4 separate regions of the Homo sapiens genome follow, and all the other regions are linked to region 2. Evidence: fine-mapped expression QTL. A gene starts in region 2. Each other region holds a variant in brackets. All regions are shown on one strand. Distances are from middle to middle.

The links. PIP is the estimated chance that this variant, and not a neighbour inherited with it, causes the effect.
Region 1: its variant is the best candidate, but not a certain one, in a credible set for the expression of CARMIL1 in whole blood (Lepik 2017, PIP 0.60).
Region 3: its variant is the best candidate, but not a certain one, in a credible set for the expression of CARMIL1 in tibial artery (GTEx, PIP 0.54).
Region 4: its variant is the best candidate, but not a certain one, in a credible set for the expression of CARMIL1 in esophagus muscle (GTEx, PIP 0.88).

What each region holds. Positions count from the first base shown.
Region 1 is chr6:25,406,747-25,411,746 of GRCh38, forward strand. The region is part of intron 2 of CARMIL1 (capping protein regulator and myosin 1 linker 1); the gene reads left to right. The region is part of intron 1 of LOC124901281 (a long non-coding RNA gene); the gene reads right to left. Among named protein-coding and RNA genes, the nearest start is that of CARMIL1, 130 kb to the left of the region's middle. The variant T/C (reference allele first, on the strand shown) is at 2,340.
Region 2 is chr6:25,276,616-25,282,010 of GRCh38, forward strand. It overlaps CARMIL1 (capping protein regulator and myosin 1 linker 1), which reads left to right and starts at 2,759. Exons shown (of 37, transcript NM_017640.6): 1 at 2,759-3,220. The coding sequence starts at 3,181. RefSeq lists a silencer at 2,487-2,956.
Region 3 is chr6:25,303,665-25,308,664 of GRCh38, forward strand. The region is part of intron 2 of CARMIL1 (capping protein regulator and myosin 1 linker 1); the gene reads left to right. Among named protein-coding and RNA genes, the nearest start is that of CARMIL1, 27 kb to the left of the region's middle. The variant C/T (reference allele first, on the strand shown) is at 2,328.
Region 4 is chr6:25,413,928-25,418,927 of GRCh38, forward strand. All of the region lies in intron 2 of CARMIL1 (capping protein regulator and myosin 1 linker 1), which reads left to right. The region is part of intron 1 of LOC124901281 (a long non-coding RNA gene); the gene reads right to left. Among named protein-coding and RNA genes, the nearest start is that of CARMIL1, 140 kb to the left of the region's middle. The variant A/T (reference allele first, on the strand shown) is at 2,745.

The DNA of each region.
Region 1 (5,000 bases), 130 kb after region 2:
AAGGGCAGATTTTGAAAGAAAGATCATGGTTTAGTTGTTGACATGCTGAATTTAAGGGTTGGAGTACATACAAGTGAAGTTAGATCAATAGATCTGATGATCGGAGGGGAGATCTGGGCTGTGCATAAAGTTGGGAGTCATCTGGGATGGACTGAAGTCATGAGAGAGAATGAATGGTAGCAGGGAATGGGGATTGGACATGTGACTAGGAATAACCACAGAGGCCAGTTGAAAATGTATGGAAACGAGAACATCAAGCATGAAGGGCCATGCCCAGTGCTAAGGAGAAATCTGGTTAGGAAGTGCATGGATTTAGCAGCCGTGAGGTTGGATTTAGCAATCAAGATTGGCACCTCAAGCAGGAGAAATTTAAGTGGAGTTGTGGGGACAGAAGCCAATTTTGAACACTAGATGAGTGAATTGGAGGCAGGAATATGAAGACACTGAGTATGGGTACCTTTTTTGAGAAGTTGGGCTCAAAGGGTAGAGACAGTTAGAGGGGACCTGCAAGAGGTGTGTAGGATCCAGGCATATAGCTCTAGGTCTAAACATCTCTATGTTTGGATATTTAGAGATGGAAGAGAAAGGATATTTAGTTGCTTAAGGTTCCTGCAAAGACAGGTGGGATGTAACCCAGAGCCCACACGAAGGGACGGGCATTTATCTCCAGCACTTCAGAAGGAGAGGAAGAGGAGGGGGTGGGTACAGCTGCAGATGCAGGCAGGTGTGGAGGTTTGGAGTGGAATGGTAAGTGATACCATTCTGATAATTTCTGTTTTCTCTGTGAAGTAGGAGGGAAAGTCATCTTCCCAGATGAAGGGAACGGAATCAGGTTGCTGGGTAAGATCAGTTCTCCAGCTGTGCTTGGCAGCTACCACTGCAAGCATGGAATAGGCGGCTAGGTAAGTTCAGCCAAGATTGAAGTTTTACTCTGTGGGAGTAATAAAAGGACAAGGAACACGAAGGCTAAGGACATTAACACATGGAGGAATGATTTCAGTGGAGGTTCAGTTGGATGAAGATAGGTTAGTGCTGATGGAGAATGACCTGGCAGTGTCAGGGGGCAATAAACAGGGTAGTGGTAGTACCTGAATAAGGGAACTAGCTATGAGTGCTTCTCCAACTGTAATGCTAATGTGAATCACCTGGGGATTTTAGTAAAAACGCAGATTCTGATTCAGCAGGTCTGGGCTGAGGCCTCAGATTCTGCATTTCTAACAAGTTCCTGTCACGCCAGCCTCTCTGGCCCGTGGATCACACTGTGAGGGCCAGGTGTGGTGGTGCATGACTATAATCCAAACACTTTGTGAGGCCCAGGTGGGAGGATCACTTGAGCTGAGGAGTTTGAGACCAGCCTGGGCAACATAGACGTCATCTCTACAAAAAGTTTAAAAATTACCTGGGTGTGGTGGCTTGTGCCTGTAGTAGCTACTTGAAAAGCTGAGGCAGGAGGATCACCTGAGCCTGGGAGGTCAAGGCTGCAGTGAGCCGAGATTGCACCACTGCACTCCAGCCCGGGTGACAGTAAAAGCCTGTCTCTTAAAATAAAAAAAAAAAAAAAAAAAAAAGATTTCGGGCAGAGAGTGGGATGCCTGAATTAGAAATCGTTTGACATGGTATAATCTCAAGCAGTAACTAACATGGCCCAGGATATGACAGAGTGAACAAGAAGGCCGAAGAATTCAAAGGCTTCCTGATCATCATATCTTTAGGGATGCAATGATTTACACTGACTATCGCCAACACTTTTCTAAGCACCTTGTGTGTATTACCTTCTTTAATCCTTATGACAACCTCCAGTGAGGTATATATTGTGATCCCATATTTTACAGATGAGGAAAGTAAGGCACACAGAGGTCTTTCTCAAAATCATTCGTGCTTGTAAGTGGTGGGACCAGAATTCAAACTGGGGTGGTACAGTTTCAAAGCCTAGTGCTCTGCATGATTGGATGCTGTATTGTCCCCTGATGAGAGAAGTTGGGGCTGTATAGAAAGTGTGAGGTGGGAGGATCATTTGATCCCAGGAGTTAAGACCGGCCTGGGCAATGTAGTGAGACCCTGTCTCTACATAAAATAGAAAAAAAAAAAAAAAGATTTTGAGCCAGGTATTAGCCTCACCTATGAATGAAGTTCAGCATATCTAGGAGAGTGCTAGGCACAGTACTTGTAGGCTTTTTACATGTTACCCCTTTAATCCCCACAACTGTCCAACAGAGTCTATTTCATACTGATTCTACAGGTAAGAAAAATAAAATTTAGGAGGTTAGGTAGTTGATAAATGGAGGAGTTGGTAATTTGATCTAAATTGGTCTGGATTCAAAGCCCATTCTTCCTTTATA[T/C]CAAAGTTTATCCCATCACCATATAGAAATGGAAATTCTCTTCTAATTCTTAAATAGGTTATAGTTACCATGGGAGTATTCTCCCCCTTGCTCTGACTCAAGCCACATGCTGAAGATGATGTGTTACGAATAAGGCTGAGACCAGGAGACTGGGCTTCTGGGCTCAGCTCTGTTTCTAACTAGCAAGTTTGCACACTGTCTCTGTAGGTCTCACACCTTTGTCCCTGTGGATCATTTTCAGAGCTATATTCTATAAGTTTGAGGACAATTATTATGGCTCCTTTTATATTAGTATCTACTGTATGCTCAGCACTTGATAGGTTATCTCTAGTACTTAAACTAGGATACAGATTGTCTCCAATTTAGAAGTGAAAAAGCTGAGGCCTGGAGATTTCAAGCAACATGCCTAATACCTCTCAGTCCACAAAATGGCAAAGCTGAGATTTCGCCTGAAGTGTGTCTGACTCTAAAGCTCATGTTCTTGCCATCTTACCAGCTGCCTCATCCTCATCTATAGCCTCATGGTGGATCCCGCTTACAGGTGCATATGGTACCGTATGCTAGTATTTATCAAACTTTCAAAACCTGGATCCAGAGTAAAACATGCATTTTATATTGATTTCGAGAATTGTGCACACACACACACATTTGCATGCGAGTACCATGTATATACTGACATCACTCAAACAAGTTTTGTGAAATAATGCTCATGTTTTCTACTTGCTGTGCCTTGGCTTTCTTTTCCTTTTCACTTTGGTTTAGTCTGTCATATTAATATGCTCATTAAACTCTGATGAATTGATTTAACTACCCACCAATGGGTTGTAGCCCTCAGTTTGAGAAGCACCGCTGTAAATTATATACCTACCTTAATTTCTTGATAGGATTACCCCAAATCTTATATTCTCCTTCTTTCCTTATTTTTTATTCTCTGAATTTAATGAAGACTATTTCTCTGATTATATATGTAATGGTGTTAAATCTAAATCAACCCCCCCCGCCCCCCGCCGCCATATGGCAACCACCTTTCTGCAAAGTGGGAAACTATCTTATAACTTTGTTCTGAGAGAAGGAAAGAAAATATGTATTTTTTTCATTTGATGAAAATGCTAATATAACAAGGGAGGGAGAAAGAAGTGACATTTGTGTTTCCTTGGCTTGAGAAGATGAGAATGTAAGGCCAAGAAACACAGACAAGTTGAAATGATGTAGGCTGGGGAGGGACTGCGGCAATAGACTTACAGTAAAAGAAAAGTGAAACTGATTTCTTGTTCCAACTCTTCCATTTAGCATTTATTGGACTCCTTCATGTGCCAGGTACTTGTGTTTTGCATGTATTATCTCAGGTGAGGAGACAGAGGTATGGGAGGCTGAGTTACCTGCCCAAGATTGCATGGTTGGTAGAGAGTGGTCTAGCAGACTCCCTGGAGCCAGTGCTCGTTGTCACTAGGCCATAGCTGCCACTTGTCTCAACTTTTGAGTAATTCTGTGTGGTCTTTATTTGGTGCCAGGCCCAGGAGGGGACTTTTGCGCCCTAGGCTTTGAATCTTGAGAGGGAACATGCTAGGGTGGAAGATTGGAGTCAATTTGTTCCACGAGGGCAGCCAGAGGAACTCCTTATTAGTCCCTGCTTCTCCCATCTTTAGAGTTGATTTGGTTTCTGTCTCTACTGAGTTCTGGTTGTTCTTTTGATTACAAGAACTACTCAATTTCCTTTAAGTAAATTTATTTATTCTTAAAATTCTGTTGCTTGAAACTAAGAATAAGCCCTAATAGGCACAGAGGAATAATTTAACTCTTCCTGATCTGTTTCCTCATCTGTAAAATAAAGGAAAAGGGCACACATATCCCCTGACCCCTCTTAACTCTCTCATCTTTAGCTAGAATTGGGTTCTAGTGATTCTCAAATGGATGTGTTCTAAAAGAGGCTGGCTGGCCCTGTGTTGGGGAAGCAGAAGTTTTAGTAATTAATTAGGTTAATATGAACTTTATAGTTATATTTTTTCTGTATTCCCTGAATAACTGTGACTCTATTACTTGTGAATTTATTTAAAACATAAATATGACAGTGATGACTAGATGAGGTCTCTTAGCACACATGCCCTATGCAGACCTGTGAGTCCCCTGCTGTCTGCTCACCCAATAGTTGAGGGCCTGGGTAGGAGTTCTGCCACATGTGAGTTCTTAACACAAAATCCTCATGGACCCTGTGGGCCTGGAGCTGGATACTTCACTCATCTTCACCCTTGGCCTCATGCTAAGAATTACCATCCTGCCACCACTTAAAGATGCCCATTCATGTTAGTGTGTCACTGCTAAAGTACTGTCATTAAAGAAGACCTATCATTACTCTGACTTTAAAATACATTGTTCTAACAGAATCACTATGGGAGATTCCAGACTTCTGTATCAGCGGGTGCTTTGAAAAGAGGATCTGATATGTACTGGCCCCTGTGTTCACCTGTGGGCGAACATTAGACATGTTTGTTTCTTTTATGCTTTGATAACACCTTACAACTTGCAATAGTGTGACTTTGGAAAGAATGAAGTGATTGTGTCTGGCATGCTGTATGTAAACATTCCATTTCTACATAATGTGAAAAGGAATGAATTAGGTGAAAATAAATGGATTTGCACAGGTGTTAGAGTACGTAGATTTCC
Region 2 (5,395 bases):
TTTCTGACCATAATGCATTACAAAATGTACTATATAGATGTGAATATATGCTTAGAATTAAAAATAAAAATCCATGGATAAGTTTTCAAAATAATGTTGCCACTCACTGTATGTTTCAAAAGAGATGGGGTTTCACTATGTTGCTCAGTCTGGTCTGTCCCAAACTCCTGGGCTCAAGCAATCCACCCACTTCGGCATCCCAAAGCATTTGGAATTACAAATGTGAGCCACTGCACCTGGCCTTGCCATGCTTTTCAAATTACACTCTTCTCCATCTTCCTTTTCAAAATAATGTTGCCACTCACTATATGTTAAATGTTAAACATTTTACAGATTCAAATGCAGTAGGGATTCTCTGAAAAAGTTTTATCTTACTAACAGCTTTCAGATTATCAGTACTAGTTGTATGGCTTAAACACAGCCACATGTAAATACTTACTTAGATGAAGCTATGGCTAATCACATATGTAACACAATCAGTTTCATGTAGTGGTTTGATCACTCGTGTATTCAAGACTATATAAACAGGGATGAATTTGAGGAAGTTGGAGTGATGGAGTGAGAAAAGTTTGTTTTTGCAGCAGTAGCAGTAGAAGGGGCAGGCCGATTCAGTAAACAAGCACACATTTCAGAATGCAAACTGCATTCTCCAAGCTGGCACCATGGTTTTACGGTGCTAGGGATGTTTACTGCTTGTTGGGTTTGCAGCTTTATAAACAGTGCTCCTTGGAGTTCTCTGCTTGCTATTCTGAAACATATTTGAGTTTTGCAACCGAGAAGTAAATGACTTTGATTTCCAAAATCAGTCAGTCATTTTTCAGTGTTGTGATAGGAGATTCATTTGAATTCACTTCTTCAGAGATGCAGGAGCCAATCAGGATCCTGTTGCAGTGAAAATGATTCTTTTATTGAAACCCCAGCTTCCTTTAAAAGAAGCCAAAGAGTACTGAATTACAGAACTGCCATACAGCCTTCCCTTTATTCTTTCCATCACCCAGGCCACAGGAAAAAAAAAAAAAAGACAAACTTTTGTTCTTATTTTCACAAGTTATCACATGGTTTGGAAACTTCAGGGCATTTCTGAAACTTCATTGGTATGTGCCAGAAAAGTCCTCTTTAACACACCAGGTTGAATGAAAGACAGTTTGAGATGTTAATTTCCATTTACTGCAGAAAAAATATATTTAATGCATTAAGGAAATGTCTAGCTTAAAGAAATTGCCCACTTTTGAAACAAATGGTTGGAGGCCTGAGGTCCAAAGCTCTAAAATCAGTTAACAAATGTTTATTGAACACCTATTTTGAACTAGGCTGTTGAAGAAGTTCAAAAGTCTAAGATAAATTCCCACTTTCAACTCACCTACAGTCTAGTTGGGCAGAAAAAATCCAAACTCAGGGGACAATGCAAGAGTTAGATAGTAAAACCAGACAAATACACAAGCAATGAAACACGACACCATATGGTTGGGTTTAGAAAAGTGTTTCAGGCAATACATATTGTAGAGGCTTAGGGATCACAGTAATCTGAAAATCCCTGGAAAATATTCACAAAGAAGGTAGACCATTGGGATGGGTTTGAAAACATAGATAAGAATCAGATAACCTTAAGAGGAAGGAGGAAGCAAACAGTGAGTCTGGTTGTAATAGAGAAGGGAGTGGGAGAGGTTAAGGAGGGTGGGAAGGGGCCAGGTTGGCAAATCCTTAGTGGTAAGGCCTGGCTGTGGGGCTGAAGATGATTCTAAGGGGTCCAAGGTCAACAGCAGTGTTTAAAATTAGATTGCCAAGTGCATGGATTCCCTTTCCTTTCCTCCTTTTCTGTCCTTTAAAAGCAGAACCTGATTAGACAGTCTGGGACATTCCCAGCCCTAGGCTAAAAAGCAGCGATTGAGGCACAAAGTATTCTTGGCCCTGAAGTTGAACCTCTGGGGATGGAGCTCAGGGAAGTCATAGGGAGTTTGGGCCCAGGTAGGATCAGACCTATCCGCAGGCTTACATAGGCTCCAGTGATTAAAGCTCAGCTTCCTGAATATGCCCCGAGGATAAAAGAGACTTTTCCGAGTGAAAGGCATTTTCCAAGGCGCTCTCAACGGGAATGTCTGAGATAGCGAACTGCGGCTGCAGAGCACCAGCTGAACGCACACACACAAGTGTCTTCTCACGGTATGATTAGTGTTCACAGGTTTCGTCTAGCTCATCAGAAATGAAGAATAGCGATGATGAAGTGACATGTCACCGGGAGGGTTGAAAAAGAAAAAGTGCGTAAGAGGGTCCCAAAAAGAACCAGCTTCCGTGTAGACGGGTCTGCAGAATCTGCCGTCTCCCGTCTTCTGGGTCCCCTGGCCCGCCCGGAGTGGGGACAAGGAAATGGAAAGCCCGGCTCACCCGGCTCTCCTCCCTCGCAGCCAGCAGATGGCTCCCGGGCTCTCTCGCGAGCCCGCTCGCCCCCTCTCCAGACGCAGGGCTTTTGCGGTTTGGGAGGGAGGCTGCGAGGAGGGGCGCGGTGCCCGCCGCCGCCACCGCAGCACCGCACAGCGTCTCTCCTGGGGGTGCGACCTACGCCGGGGACCCAGCGCTCGGGCACCGGAGGCCGGCCTCGCACCGGTGCGGAGGCCGGCTCTCGCGAGGTGAGGAGGAAACGCAGGAGGAAGAGGAGAAGGAGAAGGAGGAGAAGGAGGAGGGCCGGAGCTGCCCCCGCCCAGCCGGAGCCCGGCAGGAGCGCGAGGAAAACCTACTCCCCCCGCCCCGCGCCGCTCTCCCCGCCCTCTCCCACGCCTTCCGCTTTCACCTAGGGCTGTAGGTGCGGCGCGGAGGCTGGGCGGGAGCTACGCCGGCCCAAGCCCCGCCGGGGACCAGCGAGCCGGGAGGAGGAGCAGGCGCCACAGCCGCCCCGCGCCCCGCGCCCGCTTGTAATCCGGTCCGCTCCTTATTCAGCCGCCGGGAACTGCGAGGAGGCGTCATGTAGCAGCAGCAGCAAATCCGCCTCGCATTTGCAACTCTTTTTTTTTTTTTTGGTGGGGCGGGGGGCGCGCGGCAAAATTCTGTCTCCGCCCCCCCTTTTCTTGCCCACTTCCATTTGCAAGCTGCATCTGCCTCTCTAAAAAAATTGAGGAGTTCGGGGAAGGGCAGGGGGCCATAAATCAGAGTTGGACCTGCAATAACCCCCACACCTACAGGGCAACCATGACCGAGGAGAGCTCTGACGTTCCCAGGGAGTTGATAGGTAAGATTCACGCGGTTGTTGGTTTTCCACCTTCCTCTGCGTACTCCTCACCTCTCTCTCCCTTCCCACCTCTGCTTTCCCGCAGGTCTCGAGAAGTCTTGGCGCCCCTTAGGGCAGAGTGGTGTTGGGCAGGGTCACTGGGGGTGCCGGGAAGTTTGTTCCCATCCGACCGCCTGTAGAGCCAAGTGCAGAGAGGGAAGGCTTCGGGGAGGAATCGGGAGTCCTCGGGAGGTGGGTGGGAGGAGGGTCTCGACTGTGAGCCCTGGGCACCTCCTCTTGCCCGGAAGCGGGGATCCAGGTTGGCGAAAGAAGGGGGCGGGCCATCTTAGACTTGGGAGTTCTGCAAGCGAGGGGAGCCCTTTACAGCTCCCAGCCCACTGCCCCAAACTCGGGAAAGTCCGGGAAAGCCTATTGGAAGGACAGGTGGCGAGCGCACAGTAGGTCGTCTCCGGCACGTGTCAGGCGCTTTCCTGAAAATGCCCCGCGGGAGGTGATCTTCTGACACGCAGACTTGGGGGAGTGGGCGCTAGTCTGGTAAAATGACTGGGCTTGGCAAGGTGTGGCTTGGTGTAGCCAGCTGGGAGCGAAAGGGTTACAGGGCTGACGCAGACTCAGGCCAGGAAATAGAGGGTTAATGATAAAAGCCTTATTTTAATAATGATTAACCTACCGATTCTCCCTATAGGGGATCTCTTAGGGAACCCGTGTGTGTTACGCTGTGCAAGGTGACCCATTGTTTGAGTACCTTGAGGTTTTTTTTTTTTTGGTGGTGGTGGGGGCGGGGCTGGTTAAGTCTTGGGGTTTAACTTAATTATCTGGAGGGTTAAAATGGCAGAGCTGAAATAGGATGGGAGAGTGTTCTGAAAACCTAGCGTTTAAGCATGTATATGTGTGTAGCATGTTATACTGTAACAAGGTATGTGCGTCTGTGTACAGATGTGTTTTGAGCCCTAGTGACCTATATTCCCTCCTGTACCATTCTTGGCACACTACACAGCCTACAGCTCACAAAGATGATGTTTAATCGGCGCTGACAACAAGAGGAAGTTCTGAGCACCCGTTGATCTCCATGTGTGGAATTTGCCCCTCTGTTGTTTCTTTTAGCTAATAATACTTTGGAGGAATTTGTGTATGCCCTTCCGTTGGTGACTGTTAACTCAGCAGGTAAAACTTGATGTAGAGAGGCTGTTGCTAGGTTTGTATGGAAGCCCCTACTTCTGCTGAATTACAGACAAACCTGATCTTTTACCAGAATTTACAGTATGAAATTATTCACAGACGCACGCGCGTGTGCGCGCGCGCACACACACACACACACACACACACACACACACGCACCTCTCATCATGATCCCAGCAGATCCTCTTCTCTCTCCCCAACCCTGTGGAGTCTGCATCTTTTGCTGGAGTGAGTGACACATCCGGTTCTGGGAGGCTGCGACCTTTCCAACACCCCAAGCAAACGCCAGAGGCTCTGAAGACGCCTCCAGAGGTCCTGAGAATGAGTGTAGGGCAGGGCTTGCCTGGCTGGTCAGGGGATAAGGATGGCTAAAGTGGGTGGCAGATTTTTACTTTATATAAGGAGTTGTCCTTAAGTCTGGAAATGGAAAGTGTAGGTAATTACTTAGGCCCAAGAGAAAGAGTGAAGGGTAGAGTGGAAATAAGGTGTCTGGGTTTCTATTCATGGTTCTCAAAAGGAATAGTTTGTATATTTTAAAAGTTGAGTTTGACCTTTATCTTGAAATGGAATTTTTGTTTTTATTAAGTATTGCCTATCTCTTTCAAGAGAGTGACATATTATGCCCGATATGATTTTTCTGGGCCTTTCAGTGGTCAAGTTAGGCTGGGATAGAATAAATACCTGCACCTGCTTTCCTCTAAATTCAAGTGCTCACAAGAGTTCTGCTCTGATCAATTCAAAATGGCGACCGACCACATGAAAACCTCTATATATTCCCTTAAGATTCCCTCAAGATATTTAAAAAGTGTTACAGACTTGGCTGAGCGTGGTGGCTCACCCCTGTAATCCTAGCACTTTGGGAGGCCGAGGCAGGTGGATCACCTGAGGTCGGGAGTTGGAGACCAGCCTGACCAACATGAAGAAACCCGGTCTCTACTAAAAATACAAAAATTAGCTGGGCGTGGGGGCACGTGGCTGTAATCCCAGCTACTCGGG
Region 3 (5,000 bases), 27 kb after region 2:
GACTCTGTTTTAGAATTTGCCATATCTGCTTTAACGCTGTACAAATTAGCCAACTGGAGAAATATATGTTAAATAACGGGTGAACAACACATAATCACCCAACCTACTTTTAGGAAGATTACTAAAACATTCCATTTAACAATCATTCAGCACTATCTGTTTGTAAAGGACACGTAAGTTTTAAAGGAAGAAGCTGGTGACTTGGGAATGGACTGGAATAAAGTCAGAGAAGTCCTTTGTCCAGGGAACTTCATCATTGGGTTTGACTTGAGAAGAACAAATCAGATAAGATTAGTCTCCTCATTATAAATGTTTAAGGTAATTTCAGATCACTCTGCTTTAAAAGTCTTGTGAAATGGGGTTGGGAAAGTTTCCTTAAATCATTTACACTTGTTGATTGTGTGCAGTTTATATTATGAGCCTGCTGCCCCCACAGGTGCTGAGCTGTGCTCACACATGGGAGGGGACATCACAGAAAAGAAGACGTAGATTTATTACCTATGGTTCTGAACTGGGACAATTGATAAAAATTACAGGTGCTGAGGATTGGCTTGAAACGCAGAATAATCTTCCTAACAGAGCTGTCCACTCATAGAATGTGCTTATTGTGAGGGTGGGGATAGAGGATGGGGAATTGAATTCCTTGCAGCTGGGTAAGTTCAAGTATAGATTGCTTGCCCTCTTAACTAGGATGTCCTATAGAACAGCCGTCCCCAACCTTTTTGGTACCAGGGAGTAGTTTTGTGGAAGACAATTTTTCCACAGACCGAGTGGGTAGGGGGATGGTTTTGGGATAAACTGTTCCACCTCAGATCATCAGGCATTAGATTCTCATAAGGAGTGTGCAGCCTGCTTCCCTCGCATGTGCAGTTCACAGTAGGGTTCACGCTCCTATGAGAATCAAATGCCTTGGCTGATCTGACAGGAGGCAGAACTCAGGTGGTAATGTTTGGTCACCTGCCGCTCACCTCCTGCTGTGCGGTCTGGTTCCTAACAGGCCACAGACTGGTACTGGTCCACAGCCCAGGGGTTGGGGACACCTGCTATAGAACATTCAAGTAGGAAAATACTTCCTTTGGTCTAAGATTCTGAAATTTACAATGTTCCCTGCTCATATATCAAATGATGTATTAGCTAGAGCTTATTGAATGTCACAGTTTTACTGTCAAGAACTTAAAACTTCTATTATGAGGCAGAGCATTTGGTAAGGATAGTTGAGTCCCTCAGTGACTGTTTGGATTGGTTCTATGTCCTAGGATTGAGTACATGATATCATTTTGATGAGGTTAAAATCCAATTAGGAGGTCTGTCCCTTTGGCTGCTGGCTGGGTTTGTTACTTTTTAGTTCCAGTAGAGATATGTGAAGCTTTTCTGAACATGTTTAGCAAGGTTTGATTTTGGCATTTCTGAATATAACTGTGAGAAGAATTATCTTCCTGCTGTCCTGGTGGCAGAAGACATTGGACTTTGTTTGCTTGTCTCTTTGGGGGCAGATACACGGGCATTTAAAGAGCCATTCTAATTTTAGGAACTTGAGAATCAGGAGTCCTGAGGGTTAGTGCTAATACTTTAAAAGGTTCTTAGGTCTGCAATTTTAGTTAATAGTGTGGGGCTGAAAAAGCCTTTTTCCAGGAATATTGTGAGAGTAAGTGGGAAGTAGAGCTTTTAGAATTTTAGGAGAAAAGGGCATGGCTATTTCAGTTAATAATACATGAAGAGTTTTCTCCTTTCAGAGTCCTCCTTTCTTTGGGTTTCAAAAGGTAAGACAATCCACGGGTTTTTTAGTTTGTCTTTCAGGTGAATTGTAAAGTTTTCCTGTAAATACTGTCATTGCACTGACATGGATATTGCTGAGCAGATAAAACAAATAGCAAGTTGAGGAGGCAGTTAATTCACACTCTTCCTTCTCTAATATGGTCTGCGGCTCTAAGAATTGTTGTCTCATCCATGGCTTTTAGACCCTTAAATTTTAGTGAGTTTCATCACACGGAAACTATTGATAATTTCTTCTTCTGAAGTTTTTTGTAAGTGGTCCCTGCTAGCTAATGGTGCACAAAATGAAGCAATACAACATTTCTCTTATGGGGACTGGGAGAGAACTGACATCCTTTATAAATATGTAGCTGATATATAGGTTACCAGCCTAAGGGCTGCCTGGTGGGGAAAGTGAGGCCTGTGCCTGTCTCTACCACTGAAGACATGTTCATCAAGCCAATATATGCCTCAGACATTAAAAATATCCTTTTTTTCATTTTAAAATAATTGCCATTAAGTATACATAACATAAAATTTACCATTTTAACCACTATTAATAAATATATGTTCAG[C/T]GGCATGAAGTATATTCTCAATGTTATGCAACGTATCCATTTCCAGAACTTTTTCATCCCAAACAGAAACTGTATCAAACACTGAGTCCTCATTCCACCTCCCCATCGCCCCTGACAATCACTAATCTACTTTCTGTTTCCATAGAAACAGAAAATATCCCTATTTGGCATGTTTTATATAAATCAATTATATAATACGTGGCCTTTTGTGTCTGGCTTGTGTCATTTAGCAGAAGGGTCCCCAACCCCAGGGCTGCGGATAGGTACTGTTCCATGACCTTTTAGGAACCTGGGTCACACAGCAGGAGGTGAGCGGCAGGTAAGTGAGCATTACCGCCTGAGTTCTACCTCCTGTCAGATCAGCGGTGGCATTAGATTCTCATAGTTACGAGAACCCTGTTGTGAACTGTGCATTCAAGAGATGTAGGCTGTGTGCTCCATATGAGAATCTAGTTGATGCTCGATGATCTGAGGTGGAACTTTTTCATCCTGAAACCATCTCTCCTCCCCCCCACTTTTATTGAAAAGTTGTCTTCCAGGAAACCAGTCCTTGGTGCCAACAAGGTTGGGGACTGCTGACTTAGCATATGTTTTCAAGTTTCCTCTATGTTGTAGCATGTGCTAGAAGTTCATTCCTTTTTAATGCTGAATAATATTCTGTTGTATGCATATACCAATTTTTAAAAAAGTCATTCATACTTCAATGGACCTTTGAATTGTTTTTATTTTTTGGCTACTGTGAATACTATTGTGAACATTACTGTATGGCTGAACATTGCTGTATCTGAGTTCCTTCTTTCAGTTCTTTTGAGTATATACCTAGGAGTGGAATTACTGGATCATATGGCAGTTCTGTGTTTAACCACCTGTTTCCTGCAGTGCCTTGGCTTTTTTTTTTTTTTTTTTTGACGAGTCTCATTCTTGTCGCCTGGGCTGGAATGCACTGGCACGATCTCGGCTCACTGCAACCTCTGCCTCCCCAGTTCAAGTGATTCTCCTGCCTCAGCCTCTGGAGTAGCTTGGCTTACAGGCGCCTGCCACCACGCCTGGCTAATTTTTTTGTATTTTTAGTAGAGACAGGTTTTCACCATGTTGGCCAGGCTGGTCTCGAACTCCTGACCTCAGGTGATCCGCCTGCCTTGGTCTCCCAAAGTGCTGGGATTACAGCTGTGAGCCACCGCGCCCGGTCGCCCTGGTCCTTTTGAAACTGGGCAGTAATACCTGTGCTTGTAAGAGTGTTTACAAATATTTATCAGCCTTTTGGAACTTTAAATTAGAAAAGTGAACAGACTGTATTTGTTAGCACTTTATATACTTACATTATGTCATGGAACTTATTATTCGTGTTTCCTGAATGTCTGTTGTTTGGATACCTGTGTGTGTTTCCTACTCTATTAGAAATTCCTTGACCTGATCTGCAGTTCTCCATCTTTGTCCACCTTTTTTGTACCTTGTACTCAATAAATGTTTGTTGATAAATTGATTAGATGTGCAACATATTCTAAAGTATTATTTTTAAAAAAGAGATCCATTTACAAGAAGCACATTGGAATTATTTCCAGGTTTTGTTTTGCTAAAGTTAAGATCTGACATTATTTGTTAATTTCTCTTGGTTATGGAATGAAAAGTATTCCCACTGTTAAAAATAAATGTTAGATGTAGGAAGTAAACAGAGATGTATTTAGACATTGGGGAAAGGCTTCCACTGGGATCTGAAATATTGTGGGAAGAGAATCGCTATTGTTAGAGTAGTTCTGTGCCGTGTTAGTCTTTATTTTGTTTAGATACTGCTTTTTTGGGGGACCACTCTGCAGGCATCTAAATCTGAAGTGTAAGCCTCTTTTTTGATAAATGAGGGATAGCTAAAAGATGGGTTATTTTGGTTATTGGTTTTGCTTTTAATAGATAACCAGAATTTTTACCTCTTGGGAGAGAATGTTATCTACTTATTTATAGCAAGCAAGTGTTGTTACGGCAGGTGGCTGTGGATGTTGGCATTCAAATGGCACTGATAAGACTTTAAACAAGGTAGCCATCCAGTTATGCTTAGGCTAAAAAATGGCTGTGTGCAGATTAGGCTACATATTTCACATGGATATAAAGTTCTACTTTTATTAACAAACATAACAGTGCATTGCTTTTGTGTTTTTAGTTTCTCTTAGCCCTTATTTCTTGTCTCTTTTGGTGGCTTGCTGTTGTCTATAGCTGAGCTGAAACTTTCTGTGCAGGAATTAAGCTTAAAATATCAGTTTGTAGTCAGCTGTGGAGTATGATAAAACTTTGAGCAACACAGTTTCCAACAACACCCCTTTGTCACTGTGCCTGAGAAAGCTCTTATTAATAGAATTTCATGTGAGGTTCCGTGAGAAGGACTATTGTACAACCATTTTTTTTTTTTTTTTTTTTTTGAGATGGAGTCTCCCTTTGTCACCCAGACTGGAGTGCAGTGGCACGATCTCGGCTTACTGCAACCTCTGACTCCCAGATTCAAGTGATTCTCCTGCCTCAGCCTCCCGAGTAGCAGGGACTACAGGCGCGTGCCACCACACCTGGTTAATTTTTTGTATTTTTCATAGAGATGGGGTTTCACCTTGTTGGCCAGGCTGGTCTCGAACTCCTGACCTTGTGATCCACCTGCCTTGGCCTCCCAAAGTGCTGGGATTACAGGCGTGA
Region 4 (5,000 bases), 140 kb after region 2:
TTCTTTTGACAAAAACAATTATTAAAAAATTCAGTAGGTGAAGCAACTTAATCTTACTTTGTGAAACTAAATCTAAGATGCTATTAGTTAAGTTATAAGAAGAGCTGGTGTTTAGCAAAGGCATATTAGGTTCTGGGGTAGGGCTTTATCTGCATTTGTATCTTATTTAATCCACACAACAGTAACAGTCCTGCAGAGGAATATTCTTGTTTGAGCATCTCTTGTATGAGGCACCTCAGTTTGCTCATCTGTAATTCTGTAATCTCTAACTCTCTAGAGATAACAAAAGTCTATCAGGTTTAAGTGGCAGAGCCAGAATCTGAATATAAGTCTTTCTGATTCCAAAATTCAAGCTAGTAGATTGACCAACAGTCCCAGTTTTCTGGGATGCAGGATTCTCAGCCCTGAAACTAGAAACGTCTTATACAAACAGAAAGAGTTGGTCACCCTACAAGCAGGATGCCTCCCATCCCAGGCACTGAAGAAGTATTCATTATCAGGAAACCCTTTTTGGTAAGTCACAGAGGATGTGTCCTGTGCAACTGCCCCTGACTCTGCTAGAAACCATGTGTGTGTACTATAAATCCTCTGAAGCTTTAAATCCTAGGGCAGTTTTGGAGCCAAACAGAGAGGCTGGGAGACTGAGTTCATTGGGATTTCTAGTATGAATGTAGCCCCATTAATTGGCTCGGTTTGTGTTGATAAAACAAGAGTCACAATCTGACTTGTAACAGTAGTATTTGTAATTTTCATTCTTGCTTTAAAATATTGCTGCCCTGTTGTACCCACAAGTGGGTACAGTTTTGGGAAAGCTTGGAAGATTTCCTCTATTCCAACCCCCATCCCCTTCCACATTTTCTGTGAACTCTCTGTGTCTCTGGAGGCTTTCACTGACCACCAGAAATGGGGACCATCCTGCACAAAGCTTTTGTAGCTTATCAGTCTTCCTTCAAAGCCTGGGCTCCCTTATGAATGTGTTTCTTTTCAGACAAATTATTTTGATCTGTATCCAACTTCTGAAGGACACTGTGTACTTCCACTGCCTGTAAAATACTTTTAAAGAAAGGGAGTTGACACAGAGGGCCACAGATTGTGAACCTTATTATTGCTGGGGTGAAGGTAGAAATGATCATTAGATCCTCATGTATCTACCTGTAGTTACAAAATTAATCTTTACTCAAAAGATGAATCCATATGAACATTCTGGTTTCTTTTTTCTACTCTTTTTTTTTCTATTTCATTTTTTATTTTTAGAGATGGGGTCTTGCTCTGTCACCCAGGCTGGGGTGCAGTGGCACCATCGTAGCTCACTGTAACCTCGAACTCTTGGACTCAAGAGATCCTCCCACCTCAGCCTCCTGAGTAGTTGGGACTACAGGTATGAGCCACCACACCCAGCTCTCCTCTTGTTTTAAATATTCTGACCCTAGTTCATACCCTGTCAGTGGCCTCTAGAAACTTCCTATGGTGACTGTTCTGGAAAGGGCAAGTCAAGAGAAGACAAGCAGGTCACCTGACTCCCTCCCTCTTCCTCTCCCCACCCCCCACCCCCACTCCCCCACTGGTAGTGGGAGCGTTATTCCCTAAAGTGCAACAATTGTCAAAGGATGGAATGGCTGGCTGGTTCCTTGTGTTAGTGATTGCTGTTGTATTTCAGTTGTTTGGGTGCATGTTTGAGATTAGTTTTTAAGACTTATTAATTAGATTCACACAGGGGACGTTGTAATCACTTAATAGCCAATATGCTCATTGTATAATGATGTCAAAAGGTGTCTAATTATTTTTGGTTCATACTTTGTTCACGTTTTTCTGTAACTGTGTTACAAATGAAATACTTTTCTAGAATGCATTCTTTCTTCTGTGATTGGTGTCTATTGTCTTGCAAAAGGAATAAATAAAGTAACAAGTTCTCAAGTGATTCTCATGGAGAAGGGGCTGGGGAATGGAGGGCAGAATGAAGGCAGGGGAGGAGCGCACCAGAAGAGGGAAAGGAGATGGAGCAAGACGGGGTGGAGTGTGGGGGACACTGGCAGCAGTAGCAGAGAGAGGGGTCAGAGGAGGGGTGGGGAGCCAGTGAGGAGAGGCACAGATAGACTGAGAGGTACATACGTAGAATCATGTAGACAGATACAGAACAGAGATAAGAGAGAAATTCAGAGACACAGAGACTAACAGATGATGGCGGTGCATAGAAAGAGACAGAAGGAGACACGCAGACCAGTAGGGATTGGTCCTTTTCCTTATGATATCCAAACATCTCTCATTGTACTGCTGGTCATTTTACGTGTTTGCTTCTTTCTGGCTTTAAAGCTCCATGACTCATCTATGTTTCCATGTGTGTGGACTATTGAGGAATCTGTTTTTTGGAAAGGTGAGCTTTGACAGCCAGTATAAGTCATTAGGAACACCATCTCTGGAACCAGACCATCCAGGCTCAAATCCCAACTGCCACCTACTTGCTGGATGACCTGCACAAATTACATAATCTCCATGTGCCTCTGTTTCTTCATCTTAAAATGGGGATTATAATAGTGTTTTCCTTATAGGGTGCTGTGAGGATTAAATGTGGTAACATATACAAACCTATTAGAACAGTGTACTCAACAGGTACTGGCAATTATTACTATGTTTGTGAAAGGATCCTGAATTCCTTTGAAGGAAAGTTCACAGTTAAATATATTTTTATGAATACTGAAGAGGCTACAAGTTCCTGTCTTTGACTTTTGGCCTTGAACCTTACTTTT[A/T]ATGTAAGGTGAGAGTGGAGAGTTAATAGACTGAGAGTGAGGAGTTGCAGCTTCTAGTTCCAGCTCTGCCACTGACTAGCTGTGAGATGATGAGTTTCTCTGGACCTGCTGTCAGATAATATACAAACTCAGGGAATTTTAGGTCTTTGACAATGTGATGTTGAGACCTTTCTGGCATACGAGTTTTAGGATTTGTCTGTTATTTTACCTCTATGCAGAGGTTTTGTGGACCTAAGCTTTTTGGAAAGATTGGGGATTGATCATACCAGTACCCCTGGGAGAGAGAAATGTGTGTGCTGCTTTGTAAATAATAAAAAGGGAGAAATGGTGAGAATAGGGGACTGGCTTCCTATAGCCATGCTTATGATCATGGTTGTCAGCATTATTATCTTATTTCTTTTTCTTTTCCACTCTGGGGGAGGAGCAGTATTTGAAAGAGGGGTCATATCCTGGGGCTAAACTGGAGTAGAAGGTGCTGGATGCACTGTGGAGCTTAGTTCAGAGAAGGTGAATATTTCATCCTGTAAGATGAGTTCTAATCTTGTATTCCGCTCCCCAGACCTAGGCAAATGGCAGTGCAAGCCAAGCGTATCTCTGGTGCCTTTTATCTCCCTTTCCAAATTCCTCTTTATTACTGTCATGCTTCTTTTGATTATCTGATGCCTGTTATCCAACCCTGTGTGTCTCATGCAACAAAATGATCTCCTGCCCTTTTGCAAAAGGCCTGCAAACTCTTAATTCCCTGAGTACTGCTGTATTAGCCAAAGATTAACTAGTGCTGATGACAGAAGAGTTCAGCTCTCCAGGGCATACTTGGATTTAAAAAGAGCATTTTGAAAACTGTTGGAATGTTGAAAAAGGTACTCCTTCAAGCTGAGAGCTTTGTGGATCTCTTCCAGTCATGGCTGCCCTGGGCTATCCCTTCCTACCTTCACGGTAACTGATCTTCCAGGGGCTAGAGCACGAGGAGGCAGGATTGAGTAGTAACATATAAATATAGCCTGGTGGTTAAGAACATTGGTTTTGGTGTTAACAAAGCTGTAAGATTTAAATTATACTCTTCTTAAGGACCTTTTGAACTCTGATGCTTTTATAAACGATTTCTGCTCTAATTGAATGACCTTGAAGTGAGTTCATCACTGAGTCTCAATTTACTCATTTGAAAAATGGGAATAATGACATCAAATATAGTTGTTGTGAGGATTAAGTGTGCCACTCTCCTCAAAGATATTCACCTATTCATGGCACATAGAAAATGCTCGACAAAGAGTAGCAACGCTTAGGGACAGCTTTTATGGCTTGCAATCTGTACAGTTGCACAGGACACATCCACCAGGGGCTAGAGCACAAGGAGGCACGATTGAGTAATAACATGTAGACATATTGTGGTGGTTAAGGACACAGGCTTTGGCATTAACAGGTAAATGCAGCCAGAAAGTGGCAGAGCCAGAATCTGAATGTAAGTCTTTCTGATTCCAAAATTCAAGCTAGTAGGTTGACCAACAGTCCCAGTTTCCCGGGATGCAGGATTCTCAGCCCTGAAACTGGAAACACCTTGTGCAAACAGAAAGAGCTGGACACCCTACAAGCAGGATGCCTTCCATCCCAAGCATGTGAATTCTGTTTCTCCCCTAATTATATGACCTTGAAACGAGTTCATCATTTCCCTGCATTGGGTTAATGCCTTATTGTTATCGTCTTGAAATTCTTAATCATATTTGAACAATGTCCCTACAGATTATGTAGCCAGTCTTGCTACTACCGAGCTGCACTTGACCTCCCCGCACTCATCCTGGCCATACTTCATCCCTGTCCCTCTCCTTTCTACTGCCTGGTGCTTTGTCCCATTTCCTTGCCCCCAAGGCCTTAGGAGGGTGTAAAAAAAAAAAAAGATAAATTCCTCAGGGAAAAGATGTGATTTGGCTCACAGCATATGGAATATTCAAAGATAGACATCATCTGTTGCCCACATTTTTATGAGACTGACATGCTGCCTGTAGCATTGAGAAGGCACTGGTTGCCTACACTTTTAGAAGTCATTTATTAATGGCTTCCTAGGGCATGCCAACTCTAAAATCAAGCCACAAAAATGATACCAGGTAAAAATTGATCCTGTGAATAACTGTGACGGTGGCATTTGGGTGAAAGGTCTTGAAATGGGCTGTGTCTTTTCCCTCAACTTTCCTCACCCGCTTTTATCACACTCTCCCAGCCAGTGTCAGATTACTTCTCTTCTCATCTGTCTCATAAATAGTT